Homo sapiens: one gene and its partners. The protein of the gene in region 2 interacts with the protein of the main gene of each other region in a biochemical or structural test. Each region holds a gene or a part of one and is shown on either strand. Other genes may lie near its edges.

Evidence for each region. Proteins that work in one complex are often made in the same cells at the same time.
Region 1: the proteins of JDP2 (region 2) and ATF2 form a complex in vitro, tested with the Homo sapiens proteins (one study listed by BioGRID).
Region 3: the proteins of JDP2 (region 2) and HDAC6 form a complex in vitro, tested with the Homo sapiens proteins (one study listed by BioGRID).

The regions. Positions count from the first base shown.
Region 1 is NC_000002.12:175,074,197-175,081,222, forward strand, and holds part of ATF2 (cyclic AMP-dependent transcription factor ATF-2), read right to left. Parts: intron 6,570-7,026; coding exon 6,464-6,569; intron 892-6,463; exon of another isoform or gene 804-891; intron 672-803; coding exon of another isoform or gene 664-671; exon of another isoform or gene 640-663; coding exon 413-639; 3' UTR 1-412. UniProt on the Homo sapiens protein: Transcriptional activator which regulates the transcription of various genes, including those involved in anti-apoptosis, cell growth, and DNA damage response.
Region 2 is NC_000014.9:75,423,491-75,431,034, reverse strand, and holds the start of JDP2 (jun dimerization protein 2), read right to left. Parts: upstream 3,014-7,544; 5' UTR 2,783-3,013; intron 2,679-2,782; exon of another isoform or gene 2,429-2,678; intron 1,946-2,428; exon of another isoform or gene 1-1,945. UniProt on the Homo sapiens protein: Component of the AP-1 transcription factor that represses transactivation mediated by the Jun family of proteins.
Region 3 is NC_000023.11:48,819,048-48,825,483, forward strand, and holds the end of HDAC6 (protein deacetylase HDAC6), read left to right. Parts: intron 1-1,058; coding exon 1,059-1,208; intron 1,209-3,137; exon of another isoform or gene 3,138-3,216; intron 3,217-3,572; coding exon 3,573-3,747; intron 3,748-3,864; coding exon 3,865-4,541; intron 4,542-4,624; coding exon 4,625-4,738; intron 4,739-4,874; coding exon 4,875-5,021; intron 5,022-5,118; coding exon 5,119-5,247; intron 5,248-5,496; coding exon 5,497-5,565; 3' UTR 5,566-5,929; downstream 5,930-6,436.

The DNA of each region.
Region 1 (7,026 bases), on a different chromosome or scaffold from region 2:
CTTTGGTATAAATGATAATACTACTACCGTCACAGTTGAGGGTTAAGGGGTGGTCAAAAGAAATGGAAGTGGGAAGAAAGATTCAGTAACACCCCCATTTATTAAAACACCAGCAAATTAAAAGTGAAATAAATCACAATGAATTATAATACAATTTACACATTGAGCACAGAAAAATTAATAAATCTAATAATATTTATAAAAAAAGCAAAATCAGTCTTTTTCCAGAGACTAAAAACCGTTTTTCAGTCTGATCAACTGCTGCTACACCAACTTTAGAGCCAAATTTAATTTCAAGTAAAAAAAAAAAATTTACAACCACAGATTTCGCATAAATGGAAACTGGTCTTTCCTTGATTTCCCTTTGAAGTCACTAATGAGTATCTAAAACTGTTGTACTGCAGGTTTTTAATCAACTTCCTGAGGGCTGTGACTGGGAGGAAGGAGCCATAACGATCTGTGAAAGAGCAGGCTCTGTACTCTGGTCCGCCATCTGGGTGAGGACTGAAGTGGCTACAGCTTCTGCCTTGGAGGTTGAACTGACTCCATTGGATGTGCTGACCGAACTATGCTGTATAGCTTCTGTATGTGGACTACTCGGCACTGAAATGTCTTCTGAACTATCATCTTTATCAGCAGCTGGGTGGAAAAAAGAAAAATTATTCATTTTCCTAAAATCGGTAAGAATGCACCAGTATGCTGAGGCAATACACAGAGTAAAAAGTTAGAAAGTATCTTACAAAACTGATTAGACAAGTTGGTATTACAGCAATTGATATAGGTCATGAAGTAGGCAATTTTACCTGCAATAGGTCAAAAGAAGGCACAACCATGCATATGGAAACATCTGGGTGCCCACTGCCTTATGGAATAGAGCTGAAGAAATATTTGCTAAATAGTGTTAAAGAAAGAAAATGAGGGAGAGTTTGGAAGATAGTCTCTTACAGATACAATCAAACATTAAGTATCACATTTAACAAACTCAGTCTGGTTGGCCTACATGTCATTCTTATTACAAGATAAAAATGTATAACCACATGCATAAACAAAATGAATTCTTACATACAAATTATATCTTCAAATTATTCCCTCTGCATTCTCCAGAACTGTATTTATTCTGACTGATTTTCCATCTATTGCAGCCATGGATGATTATAACACCTGATTCTAATGATGCATACATAGGAGAACAAGCAGTATTTAGAATCTAAATGCCACCAGCTGTTATAGTTGCATGAATAAATTGGGATTCAAGTAAAAATCCATATAAAACTCTAAACATTGCATCTGAAAAGATATTAAGGAAAGGGCATTCTAAATATTTACGAAAATAAATCTGCAAATATTTAGACCTGAACAAGTCTCTTACATCCTTATTTTAATAGAACAGAATCCAGTAATTTCATTTAGTAAAAATTTGATATAGATAACACACAAATATTTATAGTATATGTAAGTTATGAGGAACAATGATAACATGAACACCTGGGAACCGAGCCGCCAACTTAAGAGAGAACATTGCCATTAACACTTCTGCTTCCTGGAGGTTCCTGTCCTCACCAAAGGTAATCACCACTCTGACATTTCTTTAACCATTCTCGTTTTTTCTCTGCAGTTTTACCACATAGGCATGTATCCCTAAACAATATAGTTCAGCTTTGTTTATTTTGAAACATTTTAAAAACAGTATCACACTGGATGTATTCTTTTGCACCTTGCTTTTTTCACTTGGCATTAAAACTTTTTTTATTCAGTGTTTAGGAGTGACAGTAAATAGGCTTCTAAAATCAAATCTAAGAATGTGTATTGGCCTGCTTACTAATGGCCAGATGCCCATTCTGAAAGTCAATTAGTGAAAAAAATTGTGGACATCTTATGAAGCAGGACTTAGCCTATGATTTGCAATGTAGAAGATGGAGAGGGGGATACCTGGTAGTGTCAACTTTAGCTAAAATAAAATTATTAATTTTGTGCATTTTCTGAAATATAGTTTTTACAGAATTTTTCAACATCTGCCTCAAATCCATGCATTTTTGAAAAGCAGGTTTTAAAATACATTAATGAGATGGAACCCCATCTTCTCTATAACATGCTATAAATCAAAACCATACCCCTAGATACTTGACCTCAAGGTACAATAAAACAACACCACCACCACCACCAACCACCAGAAGTAGTAATCCTTTAAAAATTATATAAAACAGAATGAATACTTAAAAAAAATTATAGATTCAGATGGTACATATGCAGGTATGTTACATGGGTATATTGTGCAATCCTGGGGTTTGGGCTTCTATTGAACCTATCACCAAAATAGTGAACATAGCACCCAACAGGTCGTTTCTCAACTAGTGCCCCTCTCCTTCACCCCCCTACTTTTCTGATCAAGCAGTAATGAATGTTATAAAATATTTATAATTCAGTTATTAAAATAGCCAATATAATCATTACATAATCATTACATGTATATAGAAAACAAAATACTGGCAATGACAGTTTAACTGGAGGGAATACTAAAAAGCTCTATTTGTTTTGTTTCACCACTATTCTTTTTTTTTTTTAAGTATTTATATGTGATTTTTAAAATTTTTTTATTTTTATCACTTTTTAAAAATTATACTTTAAGTTTTAGGGTACATGTGCACAACGTGCAGGTTAGTTACATACGTATACATATGCCATGTTGGTGTGCTGCACCCATTAACTCGTCATCCAACATTAGGTATATCTCCCAATGCTATCCCTCCCCCCTCCCCCCACCCCACAACAGGCCCCGGTGTGTGATGTTCCCCTTCCTATGTCCATGTGTTCTTATTGTTCAATTCCTACCTATGAGTGAGAACATGCAGTGTTTGGTTTTTTGTCCTTGCAATAGTTTGCTGAGAATGATGGTTTCCAGCTTCATCCATGTCCCTACAAAGGACATGAACTCATCATTTTTTATGGCTGCATAGTATTCCATGATGTATATGTGCCACATTTTCTTAATCCAGTCTATCATTGTTGGACATTTGGGTTGGTTCCAAGTGTTTGCTATTGTGAATAGTGCTGCAATAAACATACATTTGCATGTGCCTTTATAGCAGCATGATTTATAATCCTTTGGGTATATACCCAGTAATGGGATGGCTGGGTCAAATCGTATTTCTAGTTCAAGATCTCTGAGGAATCGCCACACTGACTTCCACAATGGTTGAACTAGTTTACAGTCCCACCAACAGTGTAAAAGTGTTCCTATTTCTCCACATCCTCTTCAGCACCTGTTGTTTCCTGACTTTTTAATGATCACCATTCTAACTTCACCACTATTCTTTAAAAGAACAACAGGCTGACGTTTCCCTGAATGTTGAGTTCAAGGGACACACCAGCTTTTAAAAATAAAGAGGCTGATCTGTGATGAGTGGTATAAGGAAACGTAAATACATACTGGAGTCAACAACTTAAAATGAAACAGTAAATTATAAGGGATGAATGCTTACCTACAGACTTTCAGAATTAGGTAAAGCAAATCTTTAAGCAGTACAAAGAATCAGGTACTCACAATTATGTAATTATAAACCTTACATACACATCAAATACCTTTACAATGTGATATATTTGCACCTATGTCCAGTTCTAGGTGAGGGGAGAAAATGACTGGTGTAATCACAAGCACTAGAGAGATACAGAAAACCATGCTGTACTCAAAGAGCCACTTCCAGCTCTACCTAAGCTAAAAGAAACCAGCTGTTTGGCAATTCAGTAATCTTGAAAGTTCTCTACCTATGTCCACAAGTTTCTTTTCCTTATTTGAGATAGGGTCTCCCTGTCGCCCAGGCTGGAGTGCTATGGCACGATCACAGCTCACTGCAGCCTTGAACTCTTGGGCTCAAGTGATCCTCTTGCCTCAGCCTCCCAAGTAGCTGGGACTATAGGTGTGTGCCAAAATGCCTGGCTTTTTTAAACTTTATTTTTTGTAGAGATGGGGTCCCGCTATTTCACCCAGACTGGTCTTGAACTCATGGGTTCAAACAATCTTCCCGCCTTGGCCTCCCAAAGTGTTGGGCTTACAAGGGATGAGCCACAGTGCCTGGCCTATACATATTTTCAGTAATAAAAGTATTTGTGGTTGATTAGTCCCCAAGAAGCTTTTCTTCCCATTTATAATTATAGAGACAATTATAATACAACTTTAATTATGCCCAGATCTAAAGAATGTGAATTCATGGCAATAAGATCACTTTTGTGCTTTATTTTTCATGGAACCCAAATATTTAAAATGTACTCTTAGTATTTTCATTCAGGTTTTATATTACTTAACTGTTGGGGTGACTAACTGTCATGGTTTTCCCACGACTGAGGGGTCTTCTTAGGAAGTAGGACTTTCAGTGCTAAAACTGGGCGGGACAGACCCTATGGCTGTGACTTAGTACTTCCACCTTTACTTGAAAGATTTTGTAACATTCCTTAATTTCTACTAAATCTTAGTTTTGATTCCCAAATGTTTTTAAAGATTTAGCTAGTATTACAACTCACCACTGTTAGCAAGAGCTGTGTGCTACAACATAATGAAGAGTGTAAATTTTTCAAAGGTATTCACTTAGTCAATTTCTGTATCTATTTTTACTACTACACAACAGAGAAGTCAGACTTATTTCAAAGATTTCAAACTTGAAAATATAAATTACCTGAAAATTTCTACAAAATCCAATTATCTCCCAAGATCTGAAGAGAATTAATTTTATGGTAGAACTATATTTCAGTTAATTTGATTATCTACATGACTAGACAGGAATAAAGATAGGATTATTTCCAAACAACAAACATATCCTATTCATTTCTTATATTCTCATAACTTAGTACTCTATGTACTAAAAATGTATTAATCTAGATTTTCAGTCATTTAAGTATACAGTATATAAACCTACGCATCTATACACTTAAGATATCTTGTAAATCAATTGTCAAATGAATAACTGGTTTGCATCTGCTGAGCATACATTGCCTGGATAATAGAGTCAAAACTGTTGGGATTATCTAATAAATTATCAAAGATTTAAAAATTACAGGTAATTCTGAATTGGATACAATTTAAGAGAACAGTTAATTTCCTTTTAATTTTATAAAACAATTTATTTCCTTTTAAACTATGAAAATCCAAGAGAGATTTCTTGTTAAGAAAATCACGTATGCATAAATGCTGAACTAGTAGCTTCTATAGGAAATTATGTTGTTAAGTCAGATGGGAACCATAATGGCCTCATCCCTGAAGCAATCATTGTTAATATAAATCCCAAACATATTTCTATATGGTTCCAATTTACTCCAATGTGTTTCACCATCCTGTCAAAATTACTAGATATCAAATAAGCAAGATTTATATGCTCAAAACTGACAAAAATCAGCGTTCTAAATATATATGGCAATTGAGAGTAGCTAAATCTACGGAATCTTTTAAATTAAAAAATATTGCCCATTCTGATGAAACTGCTTATAATGACTACAAGTAAAGATGGTGGCCATTAAGTTTTATCGTGAGCACCTGAGGAACTGTTTGCATCCAATACAAAATGTTTCTTTCTTTTGAATTACTGACACTGGCAAATTAAAATGAAGTGGATACATATGGTTGAAACAATCTTCACATTTACTAATATCCTGAAATATCACTAAATCATAAAGACTAAAACTGTGGGTTATATATTATAAATGTTGCCTAATGCATTCCCAACTCTGTTGTTTGTTACAAATTTGTATACTATGGACAAAATTGGCCATTTATTCAAGAGTAACAGCTGGTTCCAACACTGTGCATCTTATCAAAAAAGAAGGACATTACAAAAAGGAAAAGGCACAATTAACCTTTAAAATGCTGAAAACAAAAGAATCTCATTCTTTGGGAAAACATTTAGCAGGAAATTTACAAGCAGATAATTTAACTACTGTTCCCGTTTTAACATTTTTATAAACTAACTAGATATCTCAATATAAAGGTTTACAACAATAAAAACGTTACACAATGCTGACATTATCTAAGAAAGAACAATAGGATCTGATACCTTAAAGGGATATCATATATTGTTAAAGGCAGTCAGCTGATTTTAAAAAGAAAAATATCATCATTAATGAACGGAGGCTGGGAAAAAAGTAGTGTTTCACCCTGTCAATCTAAGACAAAGTGTTATCCTGAGAAGATGAACAAAATATCATCAAGTACTTACAGTATATTTTAAATTATTAGCTAATCCATTTTGTTGATCTATAGTAACGCTTAGGAAAAAAGCTAGAAACAGGAAAACTCAAACTCTCTAGATTCTAAAAAATTATACCTCTCTACTGCATTCTATAATAACCTTACAGAAATTCTGATATTTAATCTTGAATATTAGAAGCACAGTCTCCATTTTTAAAGTAGCAGCTCAGTTCACTCTGACGGTATTTCACTGACGTAGCCTAAGGCTATAGGTAATGGAACATTACTCACTATGATAGCCAGATTTCTTCTGCATGGCGGTTACAGGGCAATCTTTATGAGCCAGAAGAAGCTGTTTCAGCTGTGCCACTTCATTTCTCAGCAGGGTGACTTCACTCTGGAGAAGAAACAACTTATGTACCTTACCACAGACTAAACATATTTTTTACTATTTAAAACAAGCAAGGATTAAAGTATAAAATTGGACATCACTGGCAGAACATTAAAAACAAAGAAAATATGCTGATTAAATATGTCTAATCAGCACAGGGCAGCTTTTATATTTTAGCATTTATTAAAAAGCTGTAACTTGAATAAAAATTTAAGATAATGCCACAGCTGGATAGCATATTTCAAAATTGTTTCCATTTCCCTGGGACTTCTTATATATTATTGGTGACCTGTTGAAAGTATTTTTATTTTATATATGTTGCATGCTCTTCTGATTATTTAAAAAGAAACATCAAGGGAGTCAGGATGAATTTTCACTGATTCCATTCACCTAAAAATGAAAAAAATCATCCTAGAAATTCAAATAAGCAAGTTTCCAGTTTCCTAGAAACCAAGAAAAGCTC
Region 2 (7,544 bases):
CCACTGGCCAGCTGAAGCTTTGCAAATGGAGCTCTGCAACTAAATCCCGTGGGCTGCAGCAAGAAAACAGACTAAAAAACAACAACAACTAAGAATGGTGGGCTCTGGCCAGGCCTCCCACAGCCAGCAATAAGTAAAGAAACACAGTCTGAAAATTCCAAGACTGGGTCGCTAAGGCATTTGTCTCTGCTGAGTTCCGAGAGGCCAAACCACACACACACACAAGAACGCATGTGCACACACATGCACACGCACACACACATACACAGGCACATGGAGCTTGGCAGCCCCTAAGTTCCAGAGCTGGTAATACAAGCCACGGAACCGACTGCCAAGACAAGCAACAGAATGAGCCAGGCCCGGTTTCATTGGCCACCATACGCTGCATATGGCCCGGGACGCAGCCAAAACAGTGTTCTCACCCTCCTCAAAGGCATAGGAGACCCTCTGTTTTCAAACACACCTCCACAGAGCCTTAATTAAAGGAAAATGGAAAAATAATGTGCCTGCTGCCCTCCCCTGCCTATATAGGTATGCACACACACATACCCATATACACTCACTCCATTTTTCTCTTCCTCCCATTTCGGTTTCAAACATAATTCATTCGCATGGAAAAAAAGCAAACTGCATCCTGCAGCAGAAAGGCAGAAAAGAATGTAGCTTGCCCTCAACCCTGGCTCTGATTGCTCAAGTTGAGCTGGAGCTGAATGAATACAGAGCAGGCCGGCCTAGAGTCGGCGTTGGCCCCTTTCTTTCCAGAGTGGAGCTGGAAACAGACACTCGAGAGAGACAGCCCATTGCAACACCAGTAGCCCCACGACAAACAAGGCCCAGAGAGCCTATTCCTGCCAGGGATTCTGCAGGTTGGAAAAAAATGCCCACACATCCTACAAACAGGTAGGGAGATGACAACAAACCCAGGGAGTCAGGAGGAGCATTCCCTGGTAGCTGCAAAAGTTAGGCAGTGGATGAGTGGGGAGACCCTTATCCAAACCCTTCCTAGGGGGCATTGTCACCACTTTGCAACACATCTCCTTGGAGGTGGCTGCAGCCAACCTAGGAGAAAAGCCAGAGGTCTACACACCCATGACTTCCTGCAGCCCACCTAGGAGAAAAGCCAGAGGTCTACACACCCATGACTTCCTGCAGCCCTTCAAATCACACAGCACCCAGCTCTTCAGGAAGATTCTGGAGCTGCCTGCAGCTCTGAACCAAAGCCAAAGTAGAAGGGAACAGAAGAGTCTTTGAGAAATCCATCCTCCCTGCTCTAAACAAGGCAAAACCTTAACCACCCAGAGGTGTGAGAATAGATTTTGCTTCTCTTCCTCGATCCTCAGGTTTATACAAAATCAGAGCCATGCTCACACCTGATACCTGGTTAAACTCTCCCCTAGAAACCTGCAAAGGAAGATAAGCTATCCATCCAAGCTGCAGCCAGATTTGCTGGAAAGGTAAAAGCAATGGGAAGTGTTTTTTAAAACCCTCAGGGAAGGAAGGTTGGGGGGAAGGGAGATGATACGCGAATGCAGTTTCTACCAAGGGCTTAAAGGACGTTTGGGTACAAATGTACCCAAACATGGTTCAAAGCTTCCCAATTCCTGATGCTCCTCCAATTAAGACCCTAGGGAGAGACCACCAAGATTTAAGCCTGGGTACACACGCCTAAGCAGGCTGCAAGCCCTTTCTGAGATATAGACCTGAGCACATTTGCCCTGAGCACACGTGGTCGGGCCATAGCCCCATGCCCTGGATTCCAACAGGGAGGGCAGCACCCTGGGCAAGGGCCACGCCATCTTGCAACTGGAGATGACCCAAGGGGGTCGGCTGATTTCTCCTTCCACCAGCCTCTCCATCCCTGCAAAAGAGCCAGGACCTCCCCATCTTCCCCAGCCTCCTCATCTTCCCTGCTCCTCCTACTGACCCAGGCAAAGCCTGGCTCTGCCATCCCAGGGTCCAGGGATCCAGGTGGAAGGCCCAATCCACCCCTACACTCTCCCACCCCCCACTGCACCCCTACCCCTCGACAACCTCCTTTGAAGGGAGGAGCAGAGGAGAGCCTTCTAAGCTGGGCTGGGCAAGGGAGAGGCTGGTTACCTACAGGAGCCTGCTTGCCTCCTTATATAACCTGGCGTGGGAGACAGGAGAGCCCAAAGGGGACCCCGGCCACCCCTAGATCCCCTCCCAGCCCAGAGCTCCGAAGCAATGGCCATGAGAGAAGCTGCCTTCATTGGATGGAAATCCCGAGCCCTTCTCAATACTCTCCTCCGGGTCCGGGTCCTCCGGGAGTCGCGCTTCCTCACTGCCAGGAGGTCCTTGTCATCCCTCCACAATCTAACCCCGACCCCAACCCCGCACCTCCCTGGCCCTTCACCCTCCACCTCCACCCGCACAGCCCATCTCCGCGGGCACTTTTCTCCCCACTCACCCCGCCTTCCCCGCCGCCCGAGGAGAGCACCTCCCTGCAAACGGACGGGGGAGGAGAGCGCGGGAGGGAGAAGGAGGGAGCACCCCGGCTGTCCAGGGAGCGGACGGAGCCTCCCGTCCCGGGGCGGGAACCAAAAGGAAGCCTCAGGCTGCCGGGCGCCTCGCGGGAGGGGCCCGGCTGCAGCGCCCGGCGCGGGGAAAGCTCGAGGTCCCTGGGCTGCGGGAGCCTCCCCGCGGGGCTGGGCTGGGGCTCCTCGCGCTCCGCCCGTGCGGGGGCGGCCGTCCCAGGTGCCCGCGCCGCGCCCTGCCCCGCCCCGCCCGTCCCGGCGCCCCCAGCGCGCGCCCTCGCACCCACCGTGCAGAAGGTGCGGGGGGAGGCGGCGCCCCCGGGGCCGGGGCCCGGCTGCAGGCGCCGTGCCCGCTCCGCGCCGCTGCCGCCCGGCCGCGGAGCTCCGCCCGGTGCCCAGGCCTGTCCCGGCCCGGGAGCCGCCGCGGCGCCAGCCCCGCCGCCGCTGCAGCGTCCGCCGCCGCCAGCGCCCCCCGTCGCGGCCGCCGAGCGTCCCTCCCGCAGGCTGTGGCGGGCGGCGGGACGGGTTGCATCAGCCCCGGCTATATAGCGGCCCCTGGGCGGCGGGGAGGGGTCGGGAATGCGGAACCGGCCGAGCTGCCAGCTCCAGACGTCAGAGGGGGACGGAGAGGAAGGGAAGGAGGGGACCGGGGAGGAGGGGGTGTGGAGCCGGCGCTTCACACCCACTGACCTTAACCTCCCCCGCCGCCTTGGGCGCCCTCCTCCCGCGGCCGCTCGCGCTCCTCTCCCCGCGGGGGCGTCCCGGGTTCCATGCAGTCCCCCGGCTCCGCCACCCCACGGTGCAGGAGCGCTCGAGAAAGCAGGACGCGGCGAGCGGTTATGTAAGCGCACCCCCCGCGCACCGCCGCCCGGCTTGTGCCCGCCAGGCAGCAGCAGCCGCAGCCCTAGGAGAGAGACGCGAGAGGCCGGAGCCGGGGGAAAAGTCAAAAGCCCCTTCACGCACAGCCTGTGTTAACCATGTACCTCAGTCCCGGCGCTTCCCCCACAAACTGAGAGCGACAGGGAGAATTTCCGCACAGTTTCATCCTTGGACACTTCAGGACTGAGCGGGTGAGGAGGCGATCTCGCCAGCCTGCTTTATTTTTCGGTGGAGAAGGATGGGCTGAGATGAAGGCATTTGGGGACTCCTACCCCTACCCACCGGCCCCCGCCAGCGCCCTTAGGCCCCGAGACGGCTGGCTGCACCAGCCTGACCTCTGCTAGGGCTGCAGCCTGAGACCGCGGCTTGCTCTACTGCTGGCGCAGTTTGACCCTTGGGCTTGTACCCTGCTCCAGCGGGCTTCTCCTTTCCACTCCGGACACAGCAGTGAGCAGACCCAGCCCTCAGCAGACCCCAAGTGGCCTTCTTCCCCGTTCCAGCTTCAATAGCCAACCCCACTCCCACCTTCCATCCTTCTAGAGAGGAAATGGTGAAGGGGACTCCAGAGGGAAGGCGACATCCATGGTGCCCTCCAGTATACAAAGGCAGAGACACAGAGCCCTCAGGTAGAACGGGGTTCCCTAGATGGCATCTCCTACCTCCAGAGCTCCTGGGTACCCATCGAGCCCCCTACCTTCTGCCTAAGCCAGATAGGAGTGACGATTTTTATACTCAGCGACTTTCGGCCTCCTTCTGAGAGTGATGTCAGGTCATCACCCATAGAAGAAAGGAAGTGAAAGAAAAAGTTCATGCCTTCTTGGAGTGCAGATGCTCAGAGTGAAAGAAACAACAAGACTTGAGACAGATGGGTGCCATTGAGCAAACCCGAACATGCATGTCTCTCTCATGTGAGTGAGTGCATGAGACTTTATTCTCCTTATTTCCCCAGTGCAGTGAAATCTTTCTGGATAAAAGAAGTGGGCTAATGGAAGGAGAGACAGACCAAGTCCCAATGACATTGCCTGACCATTTTCACCTTCGCCATCAGCAGTCTCCCTCACAGCATTGGTGTGGGCAGGTAAGAAGAAAGCAAGGCCCTGAAAGAATATACATTGGAAAATGAGCAGTAATTTGATACTCTTGTGGAAGAGCATGACTCTTCGCCCCAGAAAGGCCAATGACACCTTTACTACAGCGTAAAGATCAAAGCCAGGGACTGTGAAACTGCCTCATGATGTTTCTCCCATGAGACCTGTGTCTGGATGTTTATATGGAACAAAACATGGAACAGAGGCAATAGTACTTGATGTGTCTTCAGCTGGGGCTTTGGATAAACTAAACTGATCTATATTCAGGGACTAATAATTAGGGTGTGTGGTTAGAGCGCGTCCTCTCTAGGGCCTGTTTTGGACTGTGGCTGGGCCACCAGCAGTCCTACTGGGCCTTTGCTTCCCCCACAAATTAAATATGTTACAGGGGTGGCACCAAGGGGTGACTTGGGAGGCCTTTAGTCCCCTCTACCTCTCTATAATCTCCATTAGATCTTCTCTGTTATTTGCTATTGATGCTTTTCAGTTTCATATAGGACGCTATAAGAACACAGCTTCAAGGCCTCCCTTCCGCCACATACTCCCTACTAGGCCCCTCTACGTAGTCACTGCCTCTGGGAGTGGCTAGAGGGAGAAGCCATAAACTGGGTCCTTTATGCAGACATTGGATGCTGGATGGAGCTGATTTACCACTGGCTCTTAGGGACAGACAAGTGACTCAGCCTAAGGCAGTTTGAATTTAAGTTTCCTATCACAACTAGAAAAGTCCTGATTAACACGCCCAGCCCTAGTCAATGGGCTGATTGAGAGATCGTCACATATCCCAAGAAAATCTCACAAGACTGGGAATTTTGTGGATCTGCTGGAAAGAGAAGCTGCCAGAAGCCCCACGTGAAAGGGAACTACTGAGAGTGAAGCTAATGGGAGGAAAAGTAGAGCCAAGCCACGGAGGGAAAGACAGATCAAGTTCCAATGACATTGCCTGAGTTCCTGAATTCAGTCATGCCTGACATCATCCTGACCTCTGCAGGTTTTAGCTATAGGAATCAGTAAATTATGTCTTACCCAAGGCAGTTTGAATTTGGGTTTCCTATTACTTGCAATTAGAAAAGTCCTAATTAATACAGTGGGTTTTGCATCTCTGACTTATGTGGACTATTTCATTTTGAAGTTTAATGGAGATTGATGAATCCCGAGCTCTTTGTAAAGAGGGGAAAACTGAAATGGTGAGGTAAAATAATGAATTCCCCAGACCTGCTCCTCCAAAATCAAAGGAGAAAGTGATAGTTCTGAGTAATCAGCCAATCAATTAGTCTTTATCCTAGTATATACTGAAAACCTATTGTGCACCTTTAAGGTACACAAAGTTTAAGACATGATTTCTCACCTGTTCTATGTCCCATCTAATTAGGAAAAATGATTTACAAACTAATGAATAGCAAGACAAAGAGTAGCTAAGAGCTAATGATGCGACACAGGCTATAAGCACTGTAGGAGTTCAGACAGGATTGCTGCTCCAGTCTCTACTCAAATTGTATAGACCAAAATTGCAAACGCGTAGCTGGCAGGCTGAAAATCTGGCTTTTCTGGCTTCAACCTTAAATTTGTTTTTCTAAAAAAGACAGGCATGGTGGTGCTCACCTGTAGTCCCAGCTACTCAGGAGACTGAAGCAGAAGGATCATTTGAGCCCAGGAGTTCAAGTCTGGCCTAGGCAACATAGCAAGACCCCCATCTCAAAAAAATAATTGTAGAAAAAAATATTTTTTTAATATAGCAAAGATTTCATATAAAAAAATCTAGATTTCAAACTTCTCTTTTAAAAATATCAAAGTCAGGCAACATTGGGCATATGTAATAGTCAGGATAAGCTAGGTTTTGCTGCAGTAACAAATATCCCCCCAAACTCATTGGCTTAACAAAAGAAAGGCTACTTCCCACTCACACAAGACAACTGTGGATTGAGGTGATTCTCCAGGGCAGCTGTCTTATAGATGATGCCTCAGTATTTATACCTTCATATCAACAAGTGCATTTACAGCCACCATGGCAGAGAAAAAGAAGTAGAGAGGGCCGAACACTAGCAGTGAAATCTTTCCTCCTGAAGTGACATACATCACTTTAGCTTACGTTTCATTGGCCAAAGCAAGTCACATGGCCATCCTTAATTTCAAAGATGCAAGGAATCTCAGTCCTCCCATGGACCATGGAGGAGAAAGGAACCAGAAAATAGCAAACAATTAATATCTGCCACGGCACGCGCTTCCTTATGGCAACAATAGGCTGGAGCCCATTAGAAGCTGCCCCTTGAAATGGGACTTAAACACCCAGTTTGACAGTCTCCACCCAGCCTGCCTAGCCCTTGGGGGCATTTGATTTTGCAAGTCCTGGTAAAGATAAAGCCAATCTCAATATCAGTCTTTCAGATGTCCCTGGTGATCCGTGGAGTTATCACACAGTTTTCAAAAACAAATGTTTTGCTCTGCTTGAGACAAAAACTTATGACATGCAGAATTCTTACAATGAAAAGCAGGATGGTATCATGAAATCAAACATGAAGTTGAAACTAGCTGTTATTGTAGTCTGCAAATTACATAAACCTGTTTATGGTGATTTCTTCCTGTTGCTCTTCCCTCCATCAATCAAACACCCACCAGGAGAAACAAGCCTCCCAAGCTCTTCCCTGGAGTGGTAGTGACTTGGGAAGGGGGGCGGGGGGATGTCTAATTTAACATTTTGAAGCATTTATATATATATATGAATATACATATATATAGATGTGTGTGTCTATATAAATATTCAAGGCTAAAATATTTGAGAAGAAAACTTGTGAGCTAGGAATGGGAAGGCTTCTCTTCCAATGACCACCAATGAGAATGTTATAAAATATGTCTAAAGGTTTAAGAATAAATCAGCATCCATACAAATGCAGCCATCTCTTGGAAAAGCCTAGTGTCTTCTCTTTAATCTCCTAACACAATAAAGTTTTTGGAGGATGAAGAAATGGTAACTTCTCTGGTTAAAATGCTGGAGCAGGCTGAGTGTGGTGGCTCACACTTGTATCTAGCACTTTAGCTGGCCAAGGTAGGAAGCCAGCCTAGGAAACATAGCAACACCCTGTCT
Region 3 (6,436 bases), on a different chromosome or scaffold from region 2:
TGTGCATCTTTGGATCTGCATGTGCATCTGACTGTGCATGGGTAGCCAGGACAGCCTTCTGTGTGTGTACAACTGTATGTGCAAATAACCAGCTCTTGTGGACATACCAGAGTGCATGTCGCCATTGTGGCTGTGTGGTGATGGCATGTGTATGTGACTGTGCAGGATGGCTGTGGGTTATTGTCCTCTTTGAGAAACTGTGTGTGTGTACATGACTAGTGCAGATATATAGTACTGATCTATATGGTACTGTCTGTGTGGCAGTACGTGTGGCTCTGTGTGACCATCTTCTCTGTATGTGGTTCTTGCGTTGCCATCTTCTGTTTTGGAAGTGTGCAAGCACCTCTCTTTGGCACTATGTATATAAAACCCTGTATCTTGTGTATGTGTGTCCCACGTTTGACCCTGGGGTATGTGTGTGTGAGGACATGTCTCTGTCTCTCTGTTTTTCATGTCACTCTCTTGACGTGTCAGTCTGTCTCATGTCCCCATCTGTCCCTTTTTTTTTTTTTTTGAAATGGAGTCTTGCTCTGTCACCCAGGCTAGAGTGCAGTGGTGCAATCTCGGCTCACTGCCAGCTCCGCCTCCTGGGTTCATGCCATTCTCCTGCCTCAGCCTCCTGCGTAGCTGGGACTACAGGCTCCCGCCACCACGTCTGGCTAATTTTTTGTATTTTTAGTAGAGACAGGGTTTCACTGTGTTAGCCAGGATGGTCTCAATCTGACCTCATGATCTGCCCGCCTCGGCCTCCCAAAGTGCTGGGATTACAGGCCTGAGCCACCATGCCCGGCCCCCATCTGTCCCTTTCTGCCATCTCCATGTCTCTAAGTCTGCATCTATTTCTTCTACCTCTGAGTCTGTATTTCTTTTCTTCCCTTCTTCATTTTCAGTCTCTGCTTTTGTGTCTCCTAGTCTCCAGGTTCTGTGTCTCCATCTCTCTGACTTGCATCTCCATGTCTTCATTTGTCCTTTTCTCCATGTCTCTGGGTCGCCATCACTTACTGCCTACCAAAAGCCCCTACCCTCATGCTTATACATCTCTTCTCTCCCTGCCTCAGTTTAACCCAGAACTGGTGCTGGTCTCAGCTGGCTTTGATGCTGCACGGGGGGATCCGCTGGGGGGCTGCCAGGTGTCACCTGAGGGTTATGCCCACCTCACCCACCTGCTGATGGGCCTTGCCAGTGGCCGCATTATCCTTATCCTAGAGGTAACTTTCTCTTGGTCCCTCTTCCCACAGTGGGAGGGTAGTTTGGAAATGTTGGCACCATCACTCAGGACAGTTTCCTGAAATCTCCTTTGAGTGTCCCTGCCTGGGATTGTTGGCACATACTGGGTAGTAATAAGAATAACAGCAACATTAACAGCCTTAATTGAGTGCTCACTATGTGCAGAGCACTCTTCTGAGCACCTCATGTGTCTTATTCATTCAGTTACTTGGCAAAGCAGCCTTATGAGGTAGGGTAAGCTTACCTCATTTTCCTCTCTGAAGATCAGGGAAACTGAGGCACAAAGAGGTGTGATGACTAGCCTGAGATGGCACATTTACTGATGGCAGAACCAGGACTTGAACCCATGCAGCCTGGCTCCAGGGTTTGTGCTTTTTACTCTACCTGAACTGCCTCTAACAAGTTCCTGGGACAAAGGAAATTCACTGACCTTTGTAAATGACTCAGTATCCCCACGCCCTGTGCCTCAGTTTCCTCATCTTTATGAGGCAGGCTAATCATGGAGGAATGCCTGGCATATGGTAAATGCTGGATCTTTTGGATCTGGTTTTTTGTTGTTGTTGTTGTTGTTGTTGTTTGTGAGACAAGAGTCTCGCTCTGTCACCCAGGCTAGTCTGCAGTGGCATGATCTCAGCTCACTGCAGCCTCCACCTCCCGGCTTCAAGTGATCCTCCCACCTCAGCCTCCTGAGTCGCTGGGATTACAGGCACCCGCCACCACGCCCAGCTAATTTTTGTATTTTTAGTAGAGATGGGGTTTCACCATGTTGGTCAGGCTGGTCTTGAGCTCCTGGCCTCAAGAAATCCACCCACCTTAGCCTCCCAGAGTGCTGGAATTACAGGCATGAGCCACCGCACCTGGCCCCTGGTTACTGTTATGCGTTGTTCAGATATTAACCCACTCAGCAACCTTCTGTGCTCTTATTTTCTTTTTCTTTTTCTTTTTTTTTTTGAGACGTTGTCTTGCTCTGTCGCCCAGGCTAGAGTGCAGTGGTGCGATTGTGGCTCACTGGGTTCAAGCAGTTCTCTGCCTCAGCCTCCTGAGTAGCTAGGATTACAGGTGCCTGCCACCACACCCAGCTAATTTTTTTGTATTTTTAGTAGAGACGGGGTTTCACCATGTTGGCCAGGCTGGTGTTGAACTCCTGACCTCGTGATCCACCTGCCTCAGCCTCCCAAAGTGTTGGGATTACAGGCATGAGCTACCATACCTGCCTCTTTTTTTTTTTTTTTTTTTTTTTCCTTTTGAGACAGAGTCTCGCCGTGTCACCCAGGCTGGAGTGCAATGGCGCTATCTCGGCTCACTGCAGCCTCTATCTCCCAGGCTCGAGCAAGCAATTCTCATGCCTCAGCCTCCCGAGTAGCTGGGACTACAGGCGCATGCCACCACGCCTGGCTAATTTTTGTATTTTTAGTAGAGACGGGGGTTTCACCATGTTGGCCAGGCTGGCCTCAAACTCCTGACCTCAGGTAACCTTCCCGCCTCGGCCTCCCAAAGTGCTGGGATTATAGGGGTGAGCCACCGCGCCCAGCCTGTGCTGTTATTTTCACCACTTTACAGATGAGGAAAATAAGTCACTGAGAAATTAATTGGCTTGCAAAAAGTCGCACTTACTATGTGCCCAGTACTGCTTGTGACAGGACACGGTGGGAGTTAAGAACACAGATGACTCCATCAGAGAGCCCAAGTTCAAACCCCAGTGCTGCCTCTTCAGCTGTTATGACCTCGGACAAGTCATCTAACCACTCTGAGCCTCAGTTTCTTTATCTGTAAAAAGAATAGCAACTGGGATTCCTGTAGAGTGTAAAAAAAGTCAATACAGGAGTCCATGTGGAGAAAGAGTCCAGTTGTTCCTGTACTAGGTCAGGGCAGGGGCTTTTGTATGGGTTCACAGCAGTCGTCTTGTGCAGGTCAGGTCAGTGGTTACTGTATGATGTGAGGCCAGGGGTTCCTGGACAGTGTGAAGACGGATTTCTGTATGGCATGAAGGCAAGTTCCTGTATAGATTGAGCGCCTGTGGTTGTGAGGATTGAGTTAATATGCATGAAGTACTTAAAATCGGGTCTGGCACACAGCAAACAATAAATGTCAGCTGTTACTAATGCTTTTATCAGTATTGTTATCTTGCACTTTACATCACAATTTACTCCCCACAACAACCACCTTACACAGTGGGTGCTGCCTATCTTAAAGGTGTGGGTTCTGTTCACTTGTTCTCAGTACTCCCCCTCCCTCTCCAGACTTGCAGGGCTCAGTAGGGAGGATTGGGGAGGCAGGACATGTTGTCCTCCAAATTCCCCAATGAACCCCCACCATACCTTTCCCTCCCCTTTTCCTTAACAAAGGGTGGCTATAACCTGACATCCATCTCAGAGTCCATGGCTGCCTGCACTCGCTCCCTCCTTGGAGACCCACCACCCCTGCTGACCCTGCCACGGCCCCCACTATCAGGGGCCCTGGCCTCAATCACTGAGACCATCCAAGTCCATCGCAGATACTGGCGCAGCTTACGGGTCATGAGTGAGTGGATTTGGGGGTGATGGGGGGAACCCAGGGAAGGAGGGGGCTGAGGGGCAGAGATCAGAGGCAGGAAGGGTGACAGTACCCACACTCAAGGATCTCCCTCCCTGGTTCCAGAGGTAGAAGACAGAGAAGGACCCTCCAGTTCTAAGTTGGTCACCAAGAAGGCACCCCAACCAGCCAAACCTAGGTTAGCTGAGCGGATGACCACACGAGAAAAGAAGGTTCTGGAAGCAGGCATGGGGAAAGTCACCTCGGCATCATTTGGGGAAGAGTCCACTCCAGGCCAGACTAACTCAGAGACAGCTGTGGTGGCCCTCACTCAGGACCAGCCCTCAGAGGCAGCCACAGGGGGAGCCACTCTGGCCCAGACCATTTCTGAGGCAGCCATTGGGGGAGCCATGCTGGGCCAGACCACCTCAGAGGAGGCTGTCGGGGGAGCCACTCCGGACCAGACCACCTCAGAGGAGACTGTGGGAGGAGCCATTCTGGACCAGACCACCTCAGAGGATGCTGTTGGGGGAGCCACGCTGGGCCAGACTACCTCAGAGGAGGCTGTAGGAGGAGCTACACTGGCCCAGACCACCTCGGAGGCAGCCATGGAGGGAGCCACACTGGACCAGACTACGTCAGAGGAGGCTCCAGGGGGCACCGAGCTGATCCAAACTCCTCTAGCCTCGAGCACAGACCACCAGACCCCCCCAACCTCACCTGTGCAGGGAACTACACCCCAGATATCTCCCAGTACACTGATTGGGAGTCTCAGGACCTTGGAGCTAGGCAGCGAATCTCAGGTAAGGCTCACCACACCCAGGTAGGGGCAAGAAGGGGCAAGAATCGGGCTTCTCTGATACATCTCTTACTTCTGCGTGTCCAGGGGGCCTCAGAATCTCAGGCCCCAGGAGAGGAGAACCTACTAGGAGAGGCAGCTGGAGGTCAGGACATGGCTGATTCGATGCTGATGCAGGGATCTAGGGGCCTCACTGATCAGGTGAGCTCAGGGAGAGGCTGGGACTGTGGCTTCCTTCTCTTGCCAATTTGTGTCTCCAGGTAGGAGCATGTGATGAATAAACATATAATGGGGAGATGGGGTCTTCAGCTTACCTAGTTTCACCCACCCACTCCAGGCCATATTTTATGCTGTGACACCACTGCCCTGGTGTCCCCATTTGGTGGCAGTATGCCCCATACCTGCAGCAGGCCTAGACGTGACCCAACCTTGTGGGGACTGTGGAACAATCCAAGAGAATTGGGTGTGTCTCTCTTGCTATCAGGTATGGAGCAGAGGAAGGGGATGGGGCGGAGGTTGGCCCGGGAGCAAACTGCAGGGGGATGCTGACCCCCACCTGACACTCACACCCCCAACCTCAGGTCTACTGTGGTCGTTACATCAATGGCCACATGCTCCAACACCATGGAAATTCTGGACACCCGCTGGTCCTCAGCTACATCGACCTGTCAGCCTGGTGTTACTACTGTCAGGCCTATGTCCACCACCAGGTGGGCCCTGGGTAGACCCTTCGACACGTGCACACTCACCCCCCACACACACACCCCTTCTGTGATTGGGTAAAGGGAGACCACAGGCCCCTCTGCATGGCTGCCTCATGTGATTATTTTGCATGGGGCGGGGGCTGTGGGATAGTCCAGAAGACAGAGTGGTTGAGGGCTGGAGTGGGGGCAGCCCTGCAGCCGAGGTAGAGGGGTCCTCACTCTCTCTCACCTGCCCTATTCTTGCCTCCTCCTCAGGCTCTCCTAGATGTGAAGAACATCGCCCACCAGAACAAGTTTGGGGAGGATATGCCCCACCCACACTAAGCCCCAGAATACGGTCCCTCTTCACCTTCTGAGGCCCACGATAGACCAGCTGTAGCTCATTCCAGCCTGTACCTTGGATGAGGGGTAGCCTCCCACTGCATCCCATCCTGAATATCCTTTGCAACTCCCCAAGAGTGCTTATTTAAGTGTTAATACTTTTAAGAGAACTGCGACGATTAATTGTGGATCTCCCCCTGCCCATTGCCTGCTTGAGGGGCACCACTACTCCAGCCCAGAAGGAAAGGGGGGCAGCTCAGTGGCCCCAAGAGGGAGCTGATATCATGAGGATAACATTGGCGGGAGGGGAGTTAACTGGCAGGCATGGCAAGGTTGCATATGTAATAAAGTACAAGCTGTTAAAAAACCTGGAGAAAGCTTTTTGACTTTGAGCAGGTGGAGAACCCCACATCCCTGGCCAGCAGAGCCGATGAGTAATGAAGGAATGAGGGAGTGGGTCTCTGTCAGGTCAATCCCCTGCCCATCCATTGCCCCCAAAAAACTAACTGAAAATAGAGCAGCCATCTTGACTGGCTCCACGGGATATAAAATGGTAGAATCCATGAGAAAATGGGTGCTTGCCTTATAAATAGGAGCCTCACAGCCAGTCCCAGCCACACCCACACCCTAGGCTGAGAAGGCAAGAAAACTAGCAGGAAGTATCCTTACCAGGCCTGTTTCCCCACTGTCTCATTGGCCTGACTGGGGATGGTGGGAGGTCCAGGTTTAACTTGAATGTGGTGGTCATGGTAGCTTCTTGGCAGAAGGGGTGCCTGCCATTGACCACAGGTGGGAAATTGGAGGACAGTCTGAGAGCTGAATTTCTCCCACGTGGTGAGAATTGCTTTGGCAGCTCAAGGGAGTTGGATCTGAG